Homo sapiens: one gene and its partners. The protein of the gene in region 3 interacts with the protein of the main gene of each other region in a pairwise test. Each region holds a gene or a part of one and is shown on either strand. Other genes may lie near its edges.

Region 1 (3,500 bases), on a different chromosome or scaffold from region 3:
AATCCTTTCCATTTAGTTTGTATGATTTAATTACATATTTGACTTCTCCTATAGTAAACTCCTATGGCATCTTAAAATGTTGAAAGATGGAAAAATTATAGTGAATTTTAGTTGTAATTTCCTGTTTTGTCAGAAAATATTGGGAAAAAATTGTGAAATGTACATAACCTATTAGAAATAAATTGTACACATTACAGTTTGAAAAATGACTAGTGCCCTTTGGGCACAGAGGAAGTCAAACAAATGTTTAAAAACCTACTGCTTTAGTGTTTGCTTCTGAGGAATTGTGCATAAAACAAATTCTTTTTCTTTAATGCCATTTGTTTTTGCTTATCCATACTTCGCTTGCCTAATTTTAGTGGGCCGTCCGTTGAAGTGGTTGTCCAGAGTTAGAAGGATAGTATAATCATGGGATTTTTCCTATGGGAATTGAATCCTTGCCTTCACAGTTTTATTAGCACTTTACTGTAGCTTGCAGACAGAATTTTTTAAACCTGATTCTCTTACAAATTACATGAAAATTCCTAATAATGTAATTGGTTATGAAATAAAGAGGTAGGTACATCATATGTGGGGCTCCGGTGGATAGTAGTAACTGAATTCTTGCATTGTTCTTTGTTTTTAAGGTTTGTAATTAGGGCTTGTGAAAGAGGGATGTTAGTATTTTGGTTTCCCTTGTAGAATTTTCTCCATTTCTCATTAGAATGTGGTCATTTGGGTGCTTTTTGGTCCAGAACTGACTTAGCTACTACCGCTGTTGTGGGCCTTTTGAAAGCTGACCCTTTTTTTTGCATCTTTAGCACCTAACATACTAACTTTGTAGCACCTAATATGCTTTGTACAGTATAGTGTGAGTATACAATATAAATATTTGTTAAGTAAATTTCTTCTGTTATTAGTGAACTTGGCATTTTTGTCCATGATAATGCTTGTCTGCTTTGGTGTTTGCTTCCGAGGTACTATCAATAAGATTTGTTGTAGCTCTTTTCCTTTAACTCTGCAGCCATGTATTCATTATTTTCTTTCTTGGGATTTGGTTTATTATCTTTTAAGAGGAACATAGATTAAGTATGTGTTCTCCTTACTGAAGGGAGATGTGCAGCTCAAAGAAGTTAATAGAGTGGGAATGTTTCTATATACCTTTATGTGACACTACCTAAGAATTTTTCAGACTTTTCTCCGTGTAGATTTTTATTACTTCCTTGATCTCTGTAGTTTTCTGCTAGACAAAAATCTACAAAGCATTTTCAGACTAAAGTCCTAGTGGCTTTCCAGAGTCTAAAAATATTTTTTTTTCTAGTAGTAGCATTTTCTTTCACTTCAGTTCTTCAATTTTTTTTTCAATGTTTTACTAAGATGATTAAGAGTACATAGATCAATAATGTATGTTTTTCTTTTTCTTTCTTTTTTTGGGGGGAGACACAGTCCTGCACTGTTGCCTAGGCTTGGGTATAGTGGTGCGATCTCTGCTCACTGCAACCTCTGCCTCTCGCGTTCAAGAGATTCTCGTGCCTCAGCCTCCCAAGTAGCTGAGATTACAGGCATGTGCCACCACGCCCAGCTAATTTTTGTGCTTTTAGTAGAGATGGGGTTTCACCATGTTGGCCAGGCTTGTCTTGAACTCCTGGCCTCAAGTGATCTCCCTGCCTTGTTCTCCCAAAGTGCTGGGATTACAGGCGTGAGCCACTTGCGCCCAGCGTTTTTTCAAGTACTATGGTAGAATTTTCAATCTGAAAGAAATCTTAGGGATCTTCTGATCCAACAACACAGTTACTTTTCAGGTGAAGGACTTCTCAGTAGAATTTTCTGTAGTGATAGAAATGTTTTATATCTGAAAATGTGTTTCTATGTGTTCAGTACAGTATACTTCATAGATGGCTCACATTTCAAGATCTTGAAGTATGGTTTCCAAATCTCTGTGTGACAGTGGGACTTATTTTCAAATGTAATATCATATATATGAATATATGTATTTATATATGTGTATAAGCAGATCAAAGCAGAGCCCATTCACCGTGCCTATCTTACAGTTCTGTTCAGCTTCTCTCCTGACTACTAAGACACCTCTTTGGAACACAGTTTTACAAAACACTGACTCAGAACAACTGCATTGTTTTGTAGCCAGGAAATTTAAAGCTCAAGGACATTAAGCTAGGTCTTGATAGAGCCTGTACTAAAGGTATCTGACATTCATTGTACTGTACCTCACTGTAAGTTCTTTTATATTGTGAACAATTTATATTTTTAGAAATGTCAGGTTTAGATTAATTTGTCATTTAGTTTATCAGTTGAGCCAGAGGATAAAGATGAAAACCCTAAGTCACTTTAACTCTGTGTTTCAGAATCTTTGTAGAGTTTGTTTTATAAACTCCCTATAGCCACCCTAAACCATTGAATCAGATTTATTGAGTAGGCTATGCTATGATTTGCAGCAGGGCTGCTGTGCTGTATCTTGAGGGTGGTTATTCCGAAGCACAGCCAGAATCCAAAACCACTGCATTAGGTAACCAGTTTTTTAGGCGTGTAATTACAGCCTGCTAAAGTAATGGAGTGAAAAATCAGTAATTTAATACCTTTATTATATAATGAATTAAGAAGATAAGCTTCTTCGTGTTTCTAAGGATGCTTTAGTGGGTTAGAAAGACAAAAGAAACTACCATCAGAGTGAACAGACAACCTACAGAATAGGAGAAAATTTTTAGCATCTACCCATCTGACAAAGGGCTAATATCCAGAATCTACAAAGTACCTAAACAAATTTACAAGAAAAAAACAACCCCATCAAAAAGTGGGCAAAGGATATGAACAGATACTTCTGAAAAGAAGACATTTATGCAGCCAACAGACATATGAAAAAATGCTCATCATCACTGGCCATCAGAGAAATGCAAATCAAAACCACAATGAGATACCATCTCACACCAGTTAGAATGGCGATCATTAAAAAGTCAGGAAACAACAGGTGCTGGAGAGGATGTGGAGAAATAGGAACACTTTTACACTGTTGGTGGGACTGTAAACTAGTTCAACCATTGTGGAAGACAGTGTGGTGATTCCTCAAGGATCTAGAACTAGAAATACCATTTGACCCAGCCATCCCATTACTGGACATATACCCAAAGGATAATAAATCATGCTGCTATAAAGACACGTGCACACATATGTTTATTGAGGCACTATTCACAATAGCAAAGACTTGGAACCGACCCAAATGTTCATCAATGATAGACTGGATTAAGAAAATGTGACACATATACACCATGGAATACTATGCAGCCATAAAAAATGATGAGTTCATGTCCTTTGTAGGGACATGGATGAAGCTAGAAACCATCATTCTGAGCAAACTATCACAAGGACAGAAAACCAAACACCGCATGTTCTCACTCATAGGTGGGAATTGAACAATGAGAACACTTGGACACAGGGTGGGGAACATCACACACCGGGGCCTGTCGTGGGGTGGGGGGAGTGGGGAGGGATAGCATTAGGAGATATAC
Region 2 (3,500 bases), on a different chromosome or scaffold from region 3:
GGGAGTGTGGAGGTCATCTGCTGTGGCCTCCTCCGTGTCCCTGGTCACTGAGGATGGAGGCTGCACCCCTCTAGGCCCTGGCTTGGGCATCCACACCCACTCCTCTGAATCAGCATACCTCTTGCACCCTGCTCAGTGTGCGCTGGGCCTCACTTAAGCCCTGACCTGAGGGGGCGGTTCTGTCTCTTGGGGGAGGGGCCCATGGGTGCCCGGTCAGCCTGCCTCAGGGGCTGCCTGTACAATCCACAACCCCAGTGCTGTCAGGTGTGTTCACGGATGTGGAGGCTTCCCTGAAGGACATCAGAGATCTGTTGGAGGAGGATGAGCTGCTAGAGCAGAAGTTTCAGGAGGCGGTGGGCCAGGCAGGGGCCATCTCCATCACCTCCAAGGCTGAGCTGGCAGAGGTGAGGCGAGAATGGGCCAAGTACATGGAAGTCCATGAGAAGGCCTCCTTCACCAACAGTGAGCTGCACCGTGCCATGAACCTGCACGTCGGCAACCTGCGCCTGCTCAGCGGGCCGCTTGACCAGGTCCGGGCTGCCCTGCCCACACCGGCCCTCTCCCCAGGTGAGCCCCACCAGACCCCATTGGGAGACTCGAGCTGGGGGTTTCTCTGGCCTCACTGACCACTGCTGCCCACAGAGGACAAGGCCGTGCTGCAAAACCTAAAGCGCATCCTGGCTAAGGTGCAGGAGATGCGGGACCAGCGCGTGTCCCTGGAGCAGCAGCTGCGTGAGCTTATCCAGAAAGATGACATCACTGCCTCGCTGGTCACCACAGACCACTCAGAGATGAAGGTGGGCTGGGTGAGCAGGGTAGAGGGGCTCTGGCTCCGGGCCCCACCCTTAGGAGTCGAGGCCCTGAGTGTCCGTCCCTGGCCCCCACCCCTTCCTCAGAAGTTGTTCGAGGAGCAGCTGAAAAAGTATGACCAGCTGAAGGTGTACCTGGAGCAGAACCTGGCCGCCCAGGACCGTGTCCTCTGTGCACTGACAGAGGCCAACGTGCAGTACGCAGCCGTGCGGCGGGTACTCAGCGACTTGGACCAAAAGTCAGTGCCCAGTCCTCTGCTCTTTCCCGGAGCCACCTGGAGCCCAGCCCCATGGTTCACCTGGAGCTGGCCCTTCTGCCCACCAGGTGGAACTCCACGCTGCAGACCCTGGTGGCCTCGTATGAAGCCTATGAGGACCTGATGAAGAAGTCGCAGGAGGGCAGGGACTTCTACGCAGATCTGGAGAGCAAGGTGGCTGCTCTGCTGGAGCGCACGCAGTCCACCTGCCAGGCCCGCGAGGCTGCCCGCCAGCAGCTCCTGGACAGGTTTGTGTGGCCCTGGGGCTGTGGTGCGGCTCGGGTCCAGACAGGCTGGGGTGATGGGAGCCTGGCCCCACTTTTTCCTTGCCTGTCGCACAGGGAGCTGAAGAAGAAGCCGCCGCCACGGCCCACAGCCCCAAAGCCGCTGCTGCCCCGCAGGGAGGAGAGTGAGGCAGTGGAAGCAGGAGACCCCCCTGAGGAGCTGCGCAGCCTCCCCCCTGACATGGTGGCTGGCCCACGACTGCCTGACACCTTCCTGGGAAGTGCCACCCCGCTCCACTTTCCTCCCAGCCCCTTCCCCAGCTCCACAGGCCCAGGACCCCACTATCTCTCAGGCCCCTTGCCCCCTGGTACCTACTCGGGCCCCACCCAGCTGATACAGCCCAGGGCCCCAGGGCCCCATGCAATGCCCGTAGCACCTGGGCCTGCCCTCTACCCAGCCCCTGCCTACACACCGGAGCTGGGCCTTGTGCCCCGATCCTCCCCACAGCATGGCGTGGTGAGCAGTCCCTATGTGGGGGTAGGGCCGGCCCCACCAGTTGCAGGTCTCCCCTCGGCCCCACCTCCTCAATTCTCAGGCCCCGAGTTGGCCATGGCGGTTCGGCCAGCCACCACCACAGTAGATAGCATCCAGGCGCCCATCCCCAGCCACACAGCCCCACGGCCAAACCCCACCCCTGCTCCTCCCCCGCCCTGCTTCCCTGTGCCCCCACCGCAGCCACTGCCCACGCCTTACACCTACCCTGCAGGGGCTAAGCAACCCATCCCGGCACAGCACCACTTCTCTTCTGGGATCCCCGCAGGTTTTCCAGCCCCAAGGATTGGGCCCCAGCCCCAGCCCCATCCTCAGCCCCATCCTTCACAAGCGTTTGGGCCTCAGCCCCCACAGCAGCCCCTTCCACTCCAGCATCCACATCTCTTCCCACCCCAGGCCCCAGGACTCCTACCCCCACAATCCCCCTACCCCTATGCCCCTCAGCCTGGGGTCCTGGGGCAGCCGCCACCCCCCCTACACACCCAGCTCTACCCAGGTCCCGCTCAAGACCCTCTGCCAGCCCACTCAGGGGCTCTGCCTTTCCCCAGCCCTGGGCCCCCTCAGCCTCCCCATCCCCCACTGGCATATGGTCCTGCCCCTTCTACCAGACCCATGGGCCCCCAGGCAGCCCCTCTTACCATTCGAGGGCCCTCGTCTGCTGGCCAGTCCACCCCTAGTCCCCACCTGGTGCCTTCACCTGCCCCATCTCCAGGGCCTGGTCCGGTACCCCCTCGCCCCCCAGCAGCAGAACCACCCCCTTGCCTGCGCCGAGGCGCCGCAGCTGCAGACCTGCTCTCCTCCAGCCCGGAGAGCCAGCATGGCGGCACTCAGTCTCCTGGGGGTGGGCAGCCCCTGCTGCAGCCCACCAAGGTGGATGCAGCTGAGGGTCGTCGGCCGCAGGCCCTGCGGCTGATTGAGCGGGACCCCTATGAGCATCCTGAGAGGCTGCGGCAGTTGCAGCAGGAGCTGGAGGCCTTTCGGGGTCAGCTGGGGGATGTGGGAGCTCTGGACACTGTCTGGCGAGAGCTGCAAGATGCGCAGGAACATGATGCCCGAGGCCGTTCCATCGCCATTGCCCGCTGCTACTCACTGAAGAACCGGCACCAGGATGTCATGCCCTATGACAGTAACCGTGTGGTGCTGCGCTCAGGCAAGGATGACTACATCAATGCCAGCTGCGTGGAGGGGCTCTCCCCATACTGCCCCCCGCTAGTGGCAACCCAGGCCCCACTGCCTGGCACAGCTGCTGACTTCTGGCTCATGGTCCATGAGCAGAAAGTGTCAGTCATTGTCATGCTGGTTTCTGAGGCTGAGATGGAGAAGGTGAGAAGAGGGGGTGGGTGCCCACGAGGGCAGTGTGGGGTGGCAGGGCAGGGGATCCTGGAAAACCAGGTCTGTCTTGGCTTATCTGTCCCTCAGCAAAAAGTGGCACGCTACTTCCCCACCGAGAGGGGCCAGCCCATGGTGCACGGTGCCCTGAGCCTGGCATTGAGCAGCGTCCGCAGCACCGAAACCCATGTGGAGCGCGTGCTGAGCCTGCAGTTCCGAGACCAGAGCCTCAAGCGCTCTCTTGTGCACCTGCACTTCCCCACTTGGCCTGAGTTGTGAGTCCACTGCTCTGGATGGTGGTTGGGGGTCTAAGTGCTGTCCAGTCCTT
Region 3 (3,500 bases):
CTTACATATAACCTATATAGGCACATCCTCCTGTATATTTTAAATCATCTCTCGATTACTTATAATATCTCATACAACATAGGTCTTATGTAAATTGTTACACCGTATTGTTTAGGGAATAATGACAAGAAAAGTCTGTACAGTGTTTAGTACAGATACAGTTTTTTTTTTTTTACCCCCCCGAATATTGTCGATCCACAGATGCAGAACCCACGGTTACAGAAGGGTGACTGTATAATGTGAAACACATAAGTAATTTAAAATTTACTAGGAGTCACATTTTTTAAAAGTTAAAAACTAGTGAGATATTTTATGTTCTTTTTTTTTTTTTTACTAAATTTTCAAAATCTGGTGTGTTTTAAACTTGCAGCACATGTCATTTTAGAGTAACTACATTTTAAGTGTTCAGTAGACACGTGCTTTGGGTTTCTGGAACAGTGGTCAGGAAACTCAGGATGATGTTCTGTGGCAGTCATATAGATGGAAGAGTGAGGAACTACAGGAAAGGGGAATGGAGATAATAACTTAGAACATTTACTGAGCATTTAAGATGTGTCATGCACTGTGTTAAGTGCTTTATGTTGATGAAATCGGTTGTCACAACCACCCTGGGGTAAGTACCATTATTCCCATGTTACAGATGAGAAAACTCAGCCTCACAGAGCATAGACAGCTTCCCTAAAATTACACAACTGAAATGGTAGTGTATGGATTCCAGGCTAGTTCTGTGTGTTGTTAAGCATTCTGCTACACTGCTTTGGTATGTGCAGCAGAGTCCTGGAAGTAAGTCCGTGGAAGGCAGAAACAAGGTTTATATGAGCCGTTGTGGCCAGAGATTGACATTTGGATGTATACCACAGTTCCTGTCAGGTTGTGAATCTACAAGTCCAGAATTCAAAACGACTTGGATAAGTCATCCATCTGGGGCTGTGAACAGACCACTGCCCATGCAATAATAAATAGACCCTTAATGTGGGGATTAGGGGCATTGGTCCCCTGTGCAGTCGAAAATCCATGTATAATTTTGAACTCCCCCCAAACTTAAACGCTAATAGCCTATTATTGGCTGGATGCCTTACAGATAACATAAGCAGTCTATTAGCACATATTTTGTATTATATACTTTATTCTTACAGTAACATAAGCTAGAGAAAAAATGTTATTAAGAAAATTGTAAGGAACAGAAAATATATTTACTATTCATTAAATGGAAGTGGATCATCATAAATGTGTTCATCTTCATCTTGACTTTCAGTAGGCTGAGTAGAAAGAGGAGGGGTTGGTCTTGCTGTCTCAGGGTGGCTGAGGTGGAAGAAATTCTGTGTATAAGTGGACCCCTACCTTCAAATTTGTGTTAAAGGGTCAACTGTATATCCATTACCCCCAAAAAGATACCCTGGGTTTTTTTTGTTGTCCCTCCCTCCCTCCCTCAGTTCTTGTTCCTCCTCAGGCAACCACTGATAGGCTTTCTATCACTATAGATTAATTTGCATTTTCTTGCTTTCTTTTTTTTTTTTTTTTTGAGACGGAGTCTCGCTCTGTCACCCAGGCTGGAGTGCAGTGGCCCAATCTCGGCTCACTGCAACCTCCGCCTCCTGGGTTCAAGTGATTCTCCTGCCTCAGCTTCCCGAATAGCTGGGATTACAGGCACTTGCCACCACATCTGGCTAATTTTTGTATTTTTAGCAGAGACGGGGTTTCACTATGTTGGTCAGGCTGGTCGCAAACTCCTGCCCTCATGACCTGCCTGCTTCGGCCTCCCAAAGTGCTGGGATTACAGGTGTGAGCCACTGTCCCCGGCCTAATTTGCGTTTTCTAGAATTTTATATAATGAAATCATATAATATGTACTGGAGGGGGTGGTATCTGAGTCTTTGACTCAGCATAATTTGAGATTACGCCATGTTATTACAATTACTAGCAGTTCATTCCTTTTTAGTGATGAATAGTATTCCAATGTGTGGGTAGAGCAGTTTGTTCATCTATTGATGGACATTTGTGCTTTTTCTTGTTTTTGGCTATTACAAATATAGTTATTGTAAATACTATTGTACCAGTCTTTGTATGGATATGTGCTTTAATTTCTATTGGATAAATACCTAGGTGTGGAATGGCTAGGTCTTGTGGTAAATGTAACTTTTAAAGAGTTTTCCAAAGTGATTATACCATTTTACGTTGTCACTAGGTGGTATGAGTTCAAGTTGGTCCATATTCTTGTCAATAACTAGGTATGCTCAGTCTTTAATTTTATTTTAGACTTTTAAAATTTTACTATTATTTCCTTGTCATTTGAATTTGCATTTCCCTAGTGACTAGCAATGTAGAGCATTTTAGCATATGCTTATTTGTCTGTTTGATTATTTTGCCCATTTTTAAAATAGGGATGTTCTGTTGTAGAGTTTTGGGAGTTCATTGTGTATTCTAGATACATGTCCTTTATCAGATGTGAGATTTGCAAATTTTTCTCCCAGTTTGTGGCTTATCTTTTCGTTCTCTTAACAGTGTTTTTCAAAGAGCAGAAAGTCTTTATTTTGATGAAATCCAAATTAGCCTTGTCTTTTATGAATTTATGCTTTTGGTGCCGTTGGTGTTTTATCTAAGAACCTTTTGCCTAATTCAAGATCACAAAGATTTCTCCTGTGTTTTGTTCTAGAAGTGTTAATAGTCTTAGGTTTTATGTTTTGGTCTCTGATCCTTATTGAGTTAACTTTTATTTAGAGTGAGAAGTATGGATCAAAGTTTGTGGGTTTTTCTGCATATGGCTAATTATTTCAGCACCATTTGTAGAAAAACTATTCTTTCTCCACTGAGTTGACTTTGCATCTTTGTTGAAAGTCTGTGACCATATAGGTGTGGGTCTTTCTCTGGAGTCTTTTTGTTTTCCATTGATCTGTTTGTCTAGTCTTTATGTCAGTTTCTTATTCTCTTGGTTATAATAGCTTTATAATAAGTCTTAAAATCAGGTAGTATGAGTCCTCTAACTTTGTTCTTTTTAAAAGTTATTTTGACTGTTGTAGGCCTTTGCCCTTCCATATGGATTTTAGAATCCGTTATATCAGTTTCTACAAAAAAAGTAAGCTGATATCTGGATTGGGATTCTGTTGATTACAGAGCAAATTGAGGATAGATGACGTCTTAACAATATTTAATTTTCCAGTCTATGAATATGGTATCTCTCCATTTCTTTAGATCTTTAACTTTTCTTAGCAATGTTTTAAAATTTTCAGTATATAGATTTTTCACATCTTATGTTAGATTTATCCTTAAGCATTTTATATTTTTGATTCTATTGTAAATGGTAATTTAAAATTTTTTATTTCCGATTGTTTGTCGCCAATAAGTAGAAATATGATGGATTTTTGTATATTGATCTTGTGTCCTGCAACTTAGTTCCACCAAGTAGTTTTCTGAGGATTCCATGGTATTTTCTGCAAAGATGATCATTATCCAGTCTTGGATGCCTTTTGTTTTTCTTGTTGTATTGCAGTGGCTAACACCTT
Region 4 (3,500 bases), on a different chromosome or scaffold from region 3:
TGGTAACCTCAGTTTGAAGTAGATCTGTACCAAAATGAAACAGCCTGTCAGAGTCCTTTGGATTATCAGTACCGTCAGGAGATCCTGAAGCTGGAGAATTCGGGTGGCAAGAAAAACCGACGAATCTTTACCTACACTGACTCTGATAGATACACCAATTTGGAGGAGGTATTGTTCTTTCTAGGGTCTCATAGCTTCCATCTTTGCTTCCTCTAGCTTTTTTGCCTCACTGAGTTCTGTGTGTTATGTCAGAGCCTAGTAAGGGGAGACAAGTAGCCTGTCTAGGAACTGCTGTGAGCTGCTGCTGCTGGCAGCCAGCCTGGAATAGAATGGGCACAGTCTACAGGTGGTGAGGCTGCTGCTCCCTTCTCTGCCTGCTAGAGGGCCTGGGGGAGCTGCCAGTATCTCTGATTATATGCTTGCAGAGTGCATACTGGGAGAAGTAACCACTGGGCTTGACTTCCTCCATGCATCATGAAAAAAGACAGGTAGTGGAGTCTGGAACAATATAGATAAAATTCATCAGGGGATTCAGCCCAAACTCTGAGTATATGGGTTTGAAGAGGAATTCAGTATAGCTATGGAAAATGGCTTATGTCCTCAATTTGCCTATGACAAAAATACCCTTGTGACCTTGTTTTACATTTTCTTCAGTCACTGCATTTCAGTTGCTTCTGTCTTCTCAGTAAGATTTTAAGCTCCTCGAGGGTAGAGCCTATTTTTTTTATTTTTGTCTATGACTCTGTAGGTCTCTGCAAGGAACAGGTATTCAATAAATGTTTTTGAAAGATTGACGTGCTTTCATTATTAGAGCTGTGGATTGATAACATTAGCTGGGCATGGTGGCATGTACCTGTAGTCCCGGCTACGTGGGAAGCTGAGGCGGGAGGATCACTTGAGCCAAGGAGTTCAAGGTTGCAGTGAGCTATGATAGCACCACTGCACTGCAGCCTGGGTGAGACCCTGTCTCTTAAAAAAATATATAAATTAAATAAAATTTGGGTTGTCTGTTTTGGAAAAGCAAATGAAAATGCAGTTAGTGCTCAGTTACCATGTGAGGATTTCCCACAAAATGCTTGTATCCCATTTGGCATTTTCTAACCACCTTGTTAACTTCAACATCTACCAAGCACACTAACCCAACTTTTTGTTGGTTTGTGCTCAGAGAATGCAGACTGATTTTAATATTAACATAAATAACTCCTTTTTAAAATCCAAAGGCAAACCATGATGTGGTAGAAATCTTCTTTGGGTTGTTTGGCTACTGCTCCCTCCGTTAGCATGTATAATTGTGAGGTGGCGGAACCTGTGGGGTTCAGGTCCTGGATGAGGTTTCAGGAGGAAGACTTCCCTTCAGGTACTTGGCTCCATGTGGCCCTGACCAGATGGCGTACACAGGGCTGCTTGCTTTTCCCAGCACTGTCAGAGAATGACCACTGCAGCCAGCGAGGTGCCTTCATTCTTGGTCGAGCGAATGGCAAATGTCAGGCGTCGCCGGCAGGACAGGCGAGGGATGTGAGTGCGGGCATGGGATGGGGGACAAGCTTTTACTTTTTATTTCCTAAAGTTGGGTAGTTTTGCATTTTTATCAGTGGTTATATATAGTATTCAAGTATTACTTTGTAATTAATTTAAAAAATAAATATAAAAATATAAAATATCTTCCTCACTCTTCATGTGGACATTTTTCCAAAGTGCCTCAGAGAGAGGGAAGGGATGTCATTTCTGTTTGTCAAATATTTTGGCTCTTAAAAAACAAAACAAAACAGTATGTCCACTAGCTCAAACTTCCCATTCTGAAGTGGCTCTCCACTGGGGTGCTCCATTGGGGTGTGCCAGGGAAGTGACCTTTCTGTGGTGTCTCCCAGGGAGGGCGGCATCCTCAAGTCACGCATCGTCACCTGGGAGCCCTCAGAAGAGTTTGTCAGGAACAACCACGTCATTAACACCCCTCTTCAGACAATGCACATCATGGCAGACCTGGGGCCCTATAAAAAGTGAGTGGCGCTTCTCACTGCCAGCTTAGAGCCTCATCCTTTTCTCCTCTCACCAGCTCTCCCCTTCCTGTTATTATCATCCTAGGTTATAGGGGAGGGAGGGACTTTTTCTTCCTTCTCTTCTTAGTTATGAGTGAAGCTTCTCACTGCCAACTCAGATCCTCATCTTCTTCTCCTCTCACCAGCTATCCCCTTCCTGTTATCATCCTGGGTTATAGGAGAGGAAGGGACTTTTTCTTCCTTTTTTTTCTTAGTTGTACTTGGAAGAAAGTTTTACCATGACAGCTCTCCCTATAGCCTCTGTTCTCTCCCCTGCAGTGGGCTCAGTATCTCTTCTTGTTTCCCTGAAGGACCATTGACCTCAACCTTGGTGTTTTCCTGATTTCTAGGCTTGGCTATAAGAAGTATGAACATGTCCTGTGTACTCTGAAGGTGGATAGCAATGGTGTGATCACAGTAAAGCCTGACTTCACGGGCCTCAAAGGACCCTACAGGTGAGGAGAGGAAGAAAGGGGTAGTGGAGACTGGCATTCCTTCCCTTGGTTGCACTTTTTGTCCCTAGTCAACTAGACTGTCAGAAAGTCCTTCATCTGTTCTAACTTTTACATTCCCAGGCAATGGTTCGTATTCTGTTCCAAGTCATAGGGCCTTAGAAAACCAGGGACTCCTTTCTCAGAAAATGTGCAACTGCACCAATTTGAAAGGGATCACTTCAGTGGTACAGTTAAATGACAGTGATTCTCTGTGCTGCTGAATGTAGGACCTGACCAGAACAGAGTGGGGTGAACTCAGCCAGGCTTTTCCTGTGGGCTGACTGTTCCTCATCTCTGTATCTTGGAAATGACAGAAATGTAAATTAGAAATTATCTGGCCCAACCTGTCCATTTTTCAGGTGAGAGAACTGGGTGGCAGGAATGTTGTGCCTTACAGTTTGACTGTAACTTCAAGCCAGAAATGGGCCCAGAACCTATACTTTCTGAGTCTAGTCTGGTGCCCTCTCTGCTTTACCCTTTTGTTTCTCTCTCCTGGTCGTCAATACAGCCACTTTTATCATCATATACTTTAGTGAGGTGTATGGCCCCTGATCGCTCATCCCTGGGCTGGGAGCTATCCCAGGGCCCATCTCTCATTATTAGAGTTGCTCCTTTCTGTGGTTTTGACCTTACAGGATTGAGACGGAGGGGGAGAAGCAGGAGCTGTGGAAATATACGATCGACAATGTTTCCCCCCACGCACAGCCGGAGGAGGAGGAGCGGGAACGGCGAGTGTTCAAGGATGTAAGCGCAAGTTCATTCCAAGTATCCAAGGGATGAGCCTCAGTGCCTGGAGCTGAGACCATTTCTGAACTTGATGTCAGCAGTTGCTCGGGAAAAGCCTTGCCCTTCATGGCCCCTTCTGACTTAGGCAGCATTGCTGACATATCAGACAGAAGTTTTTGATCATATTATAATAATAACAATAACCATTTATTTGAGCATTTACCATGTTCTGTGCTAGGTACTT
Region 5 (3,500 bases), on a different chromosome or scaffold from region 3:
AGTGACTCGGGAGGCTGAGGCATGAGAATCACATGAACCCTGGAGGCAGAAGCTGCAGTGAGCCGAGATCGCACCACTGCACTCCAGCCTGGGTGACACAGCAAGACCCTGTCTCAAAAAAAAAAAAAAAAAAAAAAAGTTAAATGTACAGAAAAGGAGCACCCATATAACCCTCACCCAGATTCACCGACTTGTGACATTTAGCCAATTTAGCCATATTTGCCCACGCATGCAGCCCCTGAGCTATTGGAAAATAAACTTCCTCTTCTGTAAACCTGGACTTCGGGGGAAAAAAGAAAAGAAACTGCCTACATCCTTTTTAGTCCATCCTCCAGAAGCTTCAAAAGTCAACAAGTGTCCCTTCCCAGAATCTACATCCATGCATAAGGGAGTGGCCTTCTTGCCTTAGGTTCAGCCGAAGGCTCTTGGTAAACAGTGGCCTTGTGTTCTGAGTTGCCTCACCCCTCCCCTGCCCTCCCTGAACCAGAAGTGTCCAAAGGTTCCCTGCACACCGCCCCCCACCCCCGCAATGCTCTGTTGTAGTTACACCATGGGGCAGGTTCCTCCTCCTCGACCCCTACAGGTGCCTTTGTGGGTATGAGTGTGAAGAGCCTCTCCCCCTTACGAAGCTGCTTGTGCATGGCAGTCCTTGGGAAGGAACCACTTCAGATTGTTTGGGGAAACATCCCCTAGCAACAAAAAGACAAACGGTTACAGCAAGAAAACCCTGATTTAGATGTAGACCTTTGTGGGTGCTGGAGGAGGTGATACCTGCATCTGTCATCAGATTGTGGAGAGTAGAACCATCTGACTACGAAATGGGTCTGTTCATCTGGCCTGGACCACAGCCAATTCCTCCCTAGCTCGAGATCAGACCTCCGGCTCTGGCCCAACCTCAGATGCAGTCACTGGGTAACCCCATAAGCTCCACTTACTGGCCTGCCCCTCCTTCTCCACCTTGTGAACACAGTACGGCTGAAGCCCAAAGGATTCCAGTCCCTGCTGTTTCCCTCTCAGTATGGGTGGCCCACGCTGGAATTTCTCACAATGAACCCTCTAGAAGTGGGATGACAGGCACTGTGGCATTAAGTCAGGGGGCAGCCCCCTTTTGCTTTAGGCGGTGGTTGGTTCAGGTGGCAGGGGACAGGTGAGGGGTAGGGCACGGAGCCACTGAGCTGGGGACACCCAACTAAGCCACTGGTGCCCTGGGCGGGTTATTTCACCTCTGCAAACCTCCAGTGTTCATGTCATGGTACTGATCTGTAAAATGGGAATTTAAAAAGGTACCTGCTCAGTGTGTAGGGTTTAGATGAAGACAGGCGAGAGCAGGCCCGTAAAGCATTTTGCATGGTGCCTGGAACACTTGATTTTATATCCATCTATCTATCTACCCATCCATCCGTCCATTTAATTTAATTAATTTTTTGTTTTTGAGATGGCATCTTGCTCTGTTACCCAGGCTGGAGTGCAGTGGCATGATCTCGGCTCACTGCAGCCTCCTCCTCCCGGGTTCAAGTGGTTTTCCTGCCTCAGCCTCCCGAGTAGCTGGGATTACAGGCACGTGCCACCACGCCTGGCTAATTTTTTTTTTCCTAGTAGAGATGGGGTTTCACCATGTTGACCAGGCTGGTCTCGAACTCCTGACCTCAAGTGATCCCCGCCCACCTCAGCCTCCCAAAGTGCGGGGATTACACGTGTGAGCCACTGTGCCCAACCGATCCATTAATTTCATATCATATCTATCCATCCATCCATCCATCCATCCATCCATCCATCCATCCATCTATAGAGAGAGAGATACCACTATATAGAGTGGTCTGTACCTTAAAATGCTTAAGCGTTACTTGCGTCTCCCCCATGAGTCATGTAGGGTGGGAGGGAGTAGGGTGGGTGCTTCTGGACATTTGCACCATAAGCCAGCCAGGACCCGGGTTGGCATGTCCCCAGCTCATGTGGCGGCGGCCCTTGCAGGTGCAGAGCTACATGGAACACTACTGCAACAGCTCCACAGACCGGCGGGTTCTGCTCATGTTCCTGGACATCTGTTCAGAGCTGAATAAGCTCTGCCAGCACTTTGAGGCCGTGCACTCTGGCACCCCAGTCACCAACAACCTCCTGGAGAAATGCAAAACCCTCGTTAGCCAAAGCAACGACTTAAGCAGCCTCAGAGCAAAGTAAGTCCCTCTGATGCTGCTCTTGAGGCCCCGTGTGTGCCTGTGGGGAGGCCTCTGTCCTGCTTCTTTCCTGTTGCCTGGATCATGGTGCTCCTATTAGACCACCCCGGGCAGGAAATCCCAGTCTCCACTCATTTATTGGAATGACTCGGATTCAACAAAACCTTTTCTTTACAACCATCGTAGACATGGCAGGACACCAGGTGTCTCACGGGTGTTAGCACCAGGCAGGTGGAGAAGGGGGTGTAGAGCCCAGAGCAGTTGCCCCCAGAAGCCCACAGAGATCCTCACTGACATGCAAAGAAGTGGACACCAGAGCCGCCTCCCAGGGGCAGCAGCACTGGCACTGAGGGCTCCTCATCCTGACAGCCCGGGAGCCTGCAGCACAGTGGGCCAGAGCCTGGGGAAGCTCTGTAGATACCAGGGTGAGAAGAGCCAGAGGGATGAGCCAGCCAGTTCCTCACCCCTAACCCAGGTTTCTACGGACCATGGGGCAGTGGTTTGCATCTCCTGTCTTTCACACCAGAATTACCTGGGGCTTGTGGCACCCCAGGCCTGGTCTGCCAGAATCTCTGGGGACAGAGCGCCTCAGCGTGCTGTGTGTCCAGTTCTAAAGCCTCCCCAGGTGACTCTGCTGTGCCTGAGGTGTGGCAGCTGCTTGCCACGGCATGGCAAGTCCCGGGAGCATGGGTTCACCTGGCCCCCTGCCGTCCTGCAGATACCCTCATGATGTGGTGAACCACCTCAGCTGTGACGAGGCCCGGAACCACTACGGCGGCGTGGTCAGCCTCATCCCCCTCATCCTAGACTTAATGAAAGAATGGATCGCCCACTCCGAGAAGTTGCCGCGCAAGGTGCTGCAGCACGTGAGTGAGCCCCAGGCGCACCAGGAGAGCACCAGGGGAGCCGCTCGTCCTGCCCAGGCCATAGGGACCCAGCCCAGGGCCACTAAACACAAGTGTAGACAGCTCACAAAAGCCAGCCTCAAACCCAGGGGATGTTCAAAACCACCCTGGAGGCCTCCTGGTGGGAAATTGTAACTCAGAGCCAGGAGCTCCGTCGGCGGAGAGCTTTGCTGTTTAATTTGGATTTTACTGGTTGGTCCTTTTTTCACTGGTACCCATGGACCCTGCCACTTACTAACCCCAAGGGAATCAGCCAATATATTACTGAGACTTCCTCTCTCTCTTCTTGCTTTAACTTCTTTTTTTTTTGAGACGGAGTCTCGCTCTGTCGCCCAGGCTGGAGTGCGGTGGCGCAACCTCGGCTCACTGCAACCTCCGCCTCCCAGGTTCACGCCATTCTCCTGCCTCAGCCTCCCAAGTA
Region 6 (3,500 bases), on a different chromosome or scaffold from region 3:
TGATAAGTACTGTTCTAAGCATTTTACGTATCTCTAGCCTGGACATATTGTTTGCTCAACATTTCACTCCAACTCATTTAGCGTGGAATTCACAGTCACAAACTTTTTTTTTTTTTTTTTTTTCAGACGGAGTCTGGTTCTGTCATCCAGCCTGGAGGGCAGTGGTGTAATCTTGGCTCACTGCAACTTCCACCTCCCGGGTTCAAGCGATTCTCCTGCCTCAGCCTCCTGAGTGGCTGGGATTATAGGCACCACCACCATGCCCAGCTAATTTTTTGAGTAGAGATGGAGTTTCGCTGGTCTCGAACTCCTGACCTCAAGTGATCCACCTGCCTCAGCCTCCCGAAGTGCTGGGATTACAGGTGTGAGCCACTGCACTCGGCCTCACAGTCACAAACTTTGATTCACAATTTAGTCTCCTAAGTATTTCCATAGCAGGAATGGGGTATCCTAAATATGGGATTTCAGTCATTGGAAGGGTATCTACTTCAATAGTAAAGTAAACAAATTTGCACCTGGCTTACGCATCAGTCTACTGACAGCTGGGTTACCATGAGTCAGACTCCGGAATATGATCAATTCTGGATACACAGACAAATTACATAAAATTCTGGATCTGTGAAGCTGTTAACCAGATAAAACCGTGGTGGTCCCATTGGTATTGCAATTGAGAGAGCCAACCACACTCCCTTATTCAGAGATCTTTCAACAACTATTAACATGCCAGGGTGCTGGGAAAACAGCAGCAAGTAAAAACAAAGTCTCTATTCTCAAGGAGCTTCCATCTAATGGAGGGAAGGCCGACTAAAACAAAAAAGTAAGTATATAACATGTTTGGTGGTAATAAAGCAAGAGAATAATAAGGAGAAAAATAAAGCAAGAAAATAAAACAGAAGAAGGGCTTTGTTCTTTTAGGCAGGCTTGTTCCCTGACAAGGAGACATAGGAAATGAACCCATATTTGGCACGGCAGAAGCAGAGAGCAAAGGGGAGCAGGGAAAGAGGACAGAAGGAGGAGGGGGCCAGCTCCTACAGAACTTCACATATGCTGGTTCAAACTTTGCATATCAGGAGGAAAGACGAAAAGCCAGTGGGAGAGATGTGAGCAAGAAAACCTGACCTTTTGCTGGAAAGGAGCACTCTGGCTGCTGGGTGGAGAGGTGGTTAGAGGTGGATATGGCAGAAAGAAGCCAATGGACTAGTTAGGAGGCTGTCCCAATCATTCAGGAGACAATGATGCTGTGGACCTGGTGGTAGCAGTGGAAATGGTGAGAGGTGGCCAGATCCTGGAGAGGGATGACAGGACTGGTAGCTAAGTTGGATGTGGGGTGTGAGAGAAAAAGGATTTAAGGAGGTCTCCAAGGTTCTTGGCCTGAGTCAATGGAAGAACGGAGGTGTCCTTCACTGGGATATGGACTCAGAAAACCACTTTAGGAGGAAAATCAAATGAGTTATAGTCTCTCCAATTTTAAGAAACTCTAACAAACACCTAATTATTTCTTTTAATATTATATGCACCTGGTTTTGTGTTAGCAACTTCATGGGGCACATTTTTGGCCCTCTTACTCTCCACAGGCATATCTAAACTATTTACCTTCTTTCTTCCTGAGACAGGGTCTCACTTTGTCATCCAGGCTGTAGAGCAGCGGCATGATCTCTGGTCACTGATCCTCCTGCCTTGGTCTCCCGGAGTGCTGGGATTACAGGCATGAGCCACTGCACCCAGCCCTTACCTTCTTTCTTATGATGTAATTTACTTTGAATAATTAAGGCTCCCTCCATGTTTATGAATTTCTACAAATTTATTTAGTTAGTATAAAGAATAATTACTGGGCTGGGCACGGTGGCTCACATCTGTAATCCCAGCACTTTGGAGGCCGAGGCAGGTGGATCACCGCAGGTGAGGAGTACGAGACCAGCCTGGCTGACATGGTGAAACCCCGTCTCTACTAAAAATACAAAAATTAGCTGGCCGTAGTGGCGCATGCCTGTAATCCCAGCTACTCAGGAGGCTGAGGCAGAATTGCTTGAACCCGGGAGGCGGAGGTTGCAGTGACCCGAGATCGTGCCATTGCACTCCAGCCTGGGCAACAAGAGGAAAACTCCATCTCAAAACAACAACAACAACAACAAAAAAGAATAATTACTATTACTGAATACATTGCATAGGGCAATGTAAATTACCTCTTTCTTATGATGTAGTTTACTTTGAATAATTAAGGCTCACTCCATGTTTATGAATGTCTACAAACTTATTTAGTTAGTATAAAGAATAGTTACCATTACTGAATACATTGCATAGGGCCTGATACTTTACCTATTTATTTCCTCTTCAAGCCCTCCAAGATGGGGGATATTGTGCACTGGCTGTCAGCTTCTTGAGGGCAGAGCCCATCCATGTCTGTTTCATTCACCATTGTTTACTCAATGTCTAGTGCAGTACATAGTTGTTGTTGTTGTTTTTTTTTTTTTTTTTGAGACGGAGTCTCGCTCTGTCGCCCAGGCTGGAGTGCAGTAGCGCGATCTCGGCTCACTGCAAGCTCTGCCTCCCAGGTTCCCGCCATTCTCCTGCCTCAGCCTCCCAAGTAGCTGGGACTACAGGCGCCCACCACCACGCCCGGCTAATTTCTTTTTTTGTATTTATGGTAGAGACAGAGTTTCACCATGTTAACCAGGATGGTCTCGATCTCCTGACCTCGTGATCCGCCTGCCTCAGCCTCCCAAAGTGCTGGGATTACAGGCATGAGCCACTGCGCCTGGCCACATAGTTGTTGCTGGATAACTGAATGAATGAATCCTGATATTATGGATAAGGAAACTGTCTCAGAGAGATAAAACAACTCACTCCAGGTCACCTAGGTCTTCTGACTCAGACTTTGAAGGCAATGCTTTTCCACTACCCTACTTGACCTTTCACACTGGGATCCAACACAGAACTGAATTATTCAATTATAGTATAAAACTATGAAACTATTCAAAAAGGGCAATTATGGAGAAATTATGTTTATAGAAATGTTTTATGTTGTGCTGAGAAAAGCAGGATAACTATATGTTTATAAGGACTGCCATTATGTAAAACATTTAGACATATGATCAGAAAGGAAGATGTATAAGTGGAAATATAGTAGGAAATGCATGAGAGTGGTTGATTTTTTCCCTCAGATCTTCAAATGTTGTGAAACTATTTTAAAATGTTACTTGTAAAATGCAATGTCCAAACACTGTTTACTTACCTTTGAAGGTGTGGTGTAAGAGTTCAAGAGGATTTCCTCTTCTTCTTCCACTTCAATTCTAAGAACACTGGTTAAGAAAAACAATAATGGCTGGGCACGGTAGCTCATGCCTGTAATCCCAGCACTTTGGGAGGCCGAGATGGGCGGATCACGAGATCAGGAGACAGAGACCATCCTGGCTAACACAGTGAAACCCCGTCTCTACTAAAAAAAATACAAAAAATTAGCCGGGCGCCTGTAGTCCCAGCTACTCGGGAGGCTGAGGCAG
Region 7 (2,919 bases), on a different chromosome or scaffold from region 3:
TTGCTGGTTTAGGTCTTTCTAATTCATGCTAGAGGCTTTCCTCAAATACCTATGGATCCTTATATGTTCATTGACATTTAAAAATAACACATTACAGAATGGATGGTAGGCTCTGTGTGCATGGGTGGCGATTATAACTGGTAGGCTTTGCCACAGAGCAACCGAATGGCAAACTGACAATTTCACTGGGGAACCCCAAATGCCCATCTTTGAAGGCATCTTGCCCTGGAGACGTTCAGAAAAAAATTCTCCAGTCTTCTACCTGGACTAGTAGAGGTGACTGGAGATTTTATACTAAGTGTACAGACTTTACTTACCCTCTTATTTTCTGTATTTTTCTCCAAATTCTTGAAGAGCATCTCATTGCCACATTAGTATATTTCACTGCTGTTTTTTATACCAATGTTCACTTTTTATTCCTACCAGCTTTATCTAAATTCCATTGTTTTAGAGGCTTAATAAGCATTTAGTGAAGACATACGAAGTCCTTGACCATGGGGGAAATTTGAAAGAAGTAAATTTATTGACCTTCTCTGATTTACAATAAAGTCGTAATGTACAAATCTGGAGAGCCAGAGTTAGGCAACATTACAAAGACAAGTGTGACAAGATGGCACAGATACACAGTAGCATGCTGTTAAGTAAACAGCAGGTACCAAACTAGGAAAGATGTCCAAGGCCCAGTATGGGCACACTATAGAAAGTGGTTCCACTGGCCGGGCTCAGTGCCTCGTACCTGTAATCCCAGCACTTTGGGAGGCCAAGGCGGGCTGATCATTTGAGGTCAGGAATTTGAGACCAGCCAAAATGGTGAAACCCTGTCTCTACTAAAAATACAAAAAAATTAGCCGGGCATGGTGGCACACACCTGTAGTCCCAGCTACTCAGGAGGCGAGGCTGAGGCAGGAGAATCGCTTGAACCCAGGAGGTGGAGGTTGCAGCAAGCCGAGAGCCACTGCACTCCAGCCTGGGTGACAGAGCGAAACTCTGCCAAAAAAAAAAGAAAAAAAAAAAAAGGTTGTTCCACTTGTCCAGCAGGGTGACCTTGAAGGAAAGTGGCTGGGTAAAGGAAGAGACATCGACAGAAGGCCTTAAGTGGCAGGTTAAAGAATGTTGATTTAATCTTTTTAATAGGGGGATGTTCTTTTATCTTGAGTGCAATAATCCTTATGTGATATTTCTGCTAGGCCAGCTGAATTTATCTGGAGGACTGGATCAATGTGGGAGTCATAAAAATGAGGAGAGGGTTGAGATGCAGAGGTGCGTTGGAGGATGGACAAATTGGCAAGATTCTCACACCCCTAATGCTAGCTCCCATTACATGTTATAGCTTCAATCTGGCTTTTGTGCTTTTTTTAGTCCCTTTTCATTTTCATATCAGTTTAAAACAGAACACTGTAGAATTAATCTGGTTTTTAGTCATTAATGGAAACATTTGTGAATATAACGATCTTTTAACCTTCATGACACTTAATTCATTCTCTTTTTCAGGGACGTAACATTGCTTAAAAGATACATTTACATATGTCAGTTTTGTGATTTTCTGCAAAATTTCAGGGCAATATAACATTGTTCCAATTCTTTCATTTTCCATGAAGGATTACATAAAATAATGATGGAAATCAAGGTACATTTAAAACTATTCTTTTGCTCATTTCATGGGAAGTGCATTACCATGTAGGAAATTACCAAGTCTACTACTGTGATGAACTGATCTTTTTGAAAGCAGTGTGGTCTTGGCTCAAGGCACATAAAGCAGACATTTGTTCTCCATGCTCATTATTACAATGACTACAATTATCTTTGAGTAGAATGAAAAAGAATTATGAGTTAATCATTAACATTTAAATTGCTGAGGTTTGGCAGAGCTTTTCCTGAGAAAGCAGATTGTTGAGAGTTTGGAGAACTTTTCCACTTTTTTCAAGTTTTTTTTTTTAAGTAATATAATCCCTTCATAAACAATGAGAAAAAAATAACGAAATTCAAATCCAGAGGGACAAACGCAATAGGGGAATAGGGCTTTGGAGGAGGAGCACAGGGGTGTTCGTGGCACATGTATACACACGTGTGCACACACAGCTTCCTAATTGTAACTCAAGCAAATGTTACAGAAAACATAAAATATGCACTGGAGGGTCTCGCATCATTATAAGGATCAGCCATAGCAGAGGAGATACTAATTGCTAGGATTAAAGGCTCCAAAAGCTAGTAAAAAAATCAACAGAGCTTTCTCTACCTCCAACAGCTCCCGGAATGGGGACTTCAGCAGCTCCATTGGATTAATCCAAGCTTGGTTTCCAAGGTGTGAAGCAATGAAGCGGAGTTTACCATAGGTGAACCCTCCTGCCATCCTGTTCCAAATCAACCTAAAAAGGACAAAATGAGTTTTCTACTTGGTGACCCCTAAAATTCCCCAAACAAGGCGGTGAAGTTAAATATTTAGACACCATTCATACGATAATCAAAGGAAAATGTCTGATTGCACTCAGACTTCAGCATGAATGACAGAAGAAATGTAGGTGGTAAATAACTGCAAACAACTTATATTGGATCTGATCTTAGGAAAAGGGGAAAGTACATCTTTGTGATGATATTTTGTGTTCTATTAGGGGAGGAGAGCAAGAGAGGTGAGGATGTCACCACCGATGGGGGGAAGAAAAAAACAGTTTGGTTCTCTTCTGGGAAGGAAAATGAAAAAAAAGAAAAAGAAAACAAAGTTTGGGGATACCTGGCACTCTTCAGACTCTGCCTCTTGTACCTTTAATTGGGAAGATAGACGCAGAAGCAGTACACACAGGCATCTTTATCTTGTGAGAGGAAGCTTTGCATTACGGATGTGATTTACGGTTAGAGGAGTGATTTAACAAGGCTGATGCCTTACAAAGGGGCATCATTCCCAGGGGATTTGTTAATTGAAGT

What was found.
Region 1: the proteins of DDX24 (region 3) and EIF3E interact in a two-hybrid assay, tested with the Homo sapiens proteins (one large-scale study listed by BioGRID and IntAct).
Region 2: the proteins of DDX24 (region 3) and PTPN23 interact in a two-hybrid assay, tested with the Homo sapiens proteins (one large-scale study listed by IntAct).
Region 4: the proteins of DDX24 (region 3) and MKS1 interact in a two-hybrid assay, tested with the Homo sapiens proteins (one large-scale study listed by BioGRID and IntAct).
Region 5: the proteins of DDX24 (region 3) and SPACA9 interact in a two-hybrid assay, tested with the Homo sapiens proteins (one large-scale study listed by IntAct).
Region 6: the proteins of DDX24 (region 3) and POLA2 interact in a two-hybrid assay, tested with the Homo sapiens proteins (one large-scale study listed by BioGRID and IntAct).
Region 7: the proteins of DDX24 (region 3) and TRDMT1 interact in a two-hybrid assay, tested with the Homo sapiens proteins (one large-scale study listed by BioGRID and IntAct).

What each region holds. Positions count from the first base shown.
Region 1 is NC_000008.11:108,210,718-108,214,217, reverse strand, and holds part of EIF3E (eukaryotic translation initiation factor 3 subunit E), read left to right. Parts: intron 1-3,500. UniProt on the Homo sapiens protein: Component of the eukaryotic translation initiation factor 3 (eIF-3) complex, which is required for several steps in the initiation of protein synthesis.
Region 2 is NC_000003.12:47,408,521-47,412,020, forward strand, and holds part of PTPN23 (tyrosine-protein phosphatase non-receptor type 23), read left to right. Parts: intron 1-255; coding exon 256-567; intron 568-642; coding exon 643-797; intron 798-896; coding exon 897-1,048; intron 1,049-1,134; coding exon 1,135-1,314; intron 1,315-1,407; coding exon 1,408-3,166; intron 3,167-3,262; coding exon 3,263-3,447; intron 3,448-3,500. UniProt on the Homo sapiens protein: Plays a role in sorting of endocytic ubiquitinated cargos into multivesicular bodies (MVBs) via its interaction with the ESCRT-I complex (endosomal sorting complex required for transport I), and possibly also other ESCRT complexes.
Region 3 is NC_000014.9:94,074,703-94,078,202, reverse strand, and holds part of DDX24 (ATP-dependent RNA helicase DDX24), read left to right. Parts: intron 1-3,500. UniProt on the Homo sapiens protein: ATP-dependent RNA helicase that plays a role in various aspects of RNA metabolism including pre-mRNA splicing and is thereby involved in different biological processes such as cell cycle regulation or innate immunity.
Region 4 is NC_000017.11:58,212,756-58,216,255, reverse strand, and holds part of MKS1 (tectonic-like complex member MKS1), read left to right. Parts: intron 1-12; coding exon 13-168; intron 169-1,357; exon of another isoform or gene 1,358-1,417; coding exon 1,418-1,515; intron 1,516-1,868; coding exon 1,869-1,997; intron 1,998-2,386; coding exon 2,387-2,491; intron 2,492-3,165; coding exon 3,166-3,274; intron 3,275-3,500. UniProt on the Homo sapiens protein: Component of the tectonic-like complex, a complex localized at the transition zone of primary cilia and acting as a barrier that prevents diffusion of transmembrane proteins between the cilia and plasma membranes.
Region 5 is NC_000009.12:132,885,398-132,888,897, forward strand, and holds part of SPACA9 (sperm acrosome-associated protein 9), read left to right. Parts: intron 1-1,971; coding exon 1,972-2,174; intron 2,175-2,892; coding exon 2,893-3,214; 3' UTR 3,215-3,500. UniProt on the Homo sapiens protein: Microtubule inner protein (MIP) part of the dynein-decorated doublet microtubules (DMTs) of multiciliated respiratory cells and the distal singlet microtubules of monoflagellated spermatozoa.
Region 6 is NC_000011.10:65,268,462-65,271,961, reverse strand, and holds part of POLA2 (DNA polymerase alpha subunit B), read right to left. Parts: intron 3,291-3,500; coding exon 3,233-3,290; intron 1-3,232. UniProt on the Homo sapiens protein: Accessory subunit of the DNA polymerase alpha complex (also known as the alpha DNA polymerase-primase complex) which plays an essential role in the initiation of DNA synthesis.
Region 7 is NC_000010.11:17,136,836-17,139,754, forward strand, and holds the end of TRDMT1 (tRNA (cytosine(38)-C(5))-methyltransferase), read right to left. Parts: 3' UTR 2,367-2,919; coding exon of another isoform or gene 2,362-2,366; 3' UTR 501-2,361; downstream 1-500. UniProt on the Homo sapiens protein: Specifically methylates cytosine 38 in the anticodon loop of tRNA(Asp). Has higher activity on tRNA(Asp) modified with queuosine at position 34.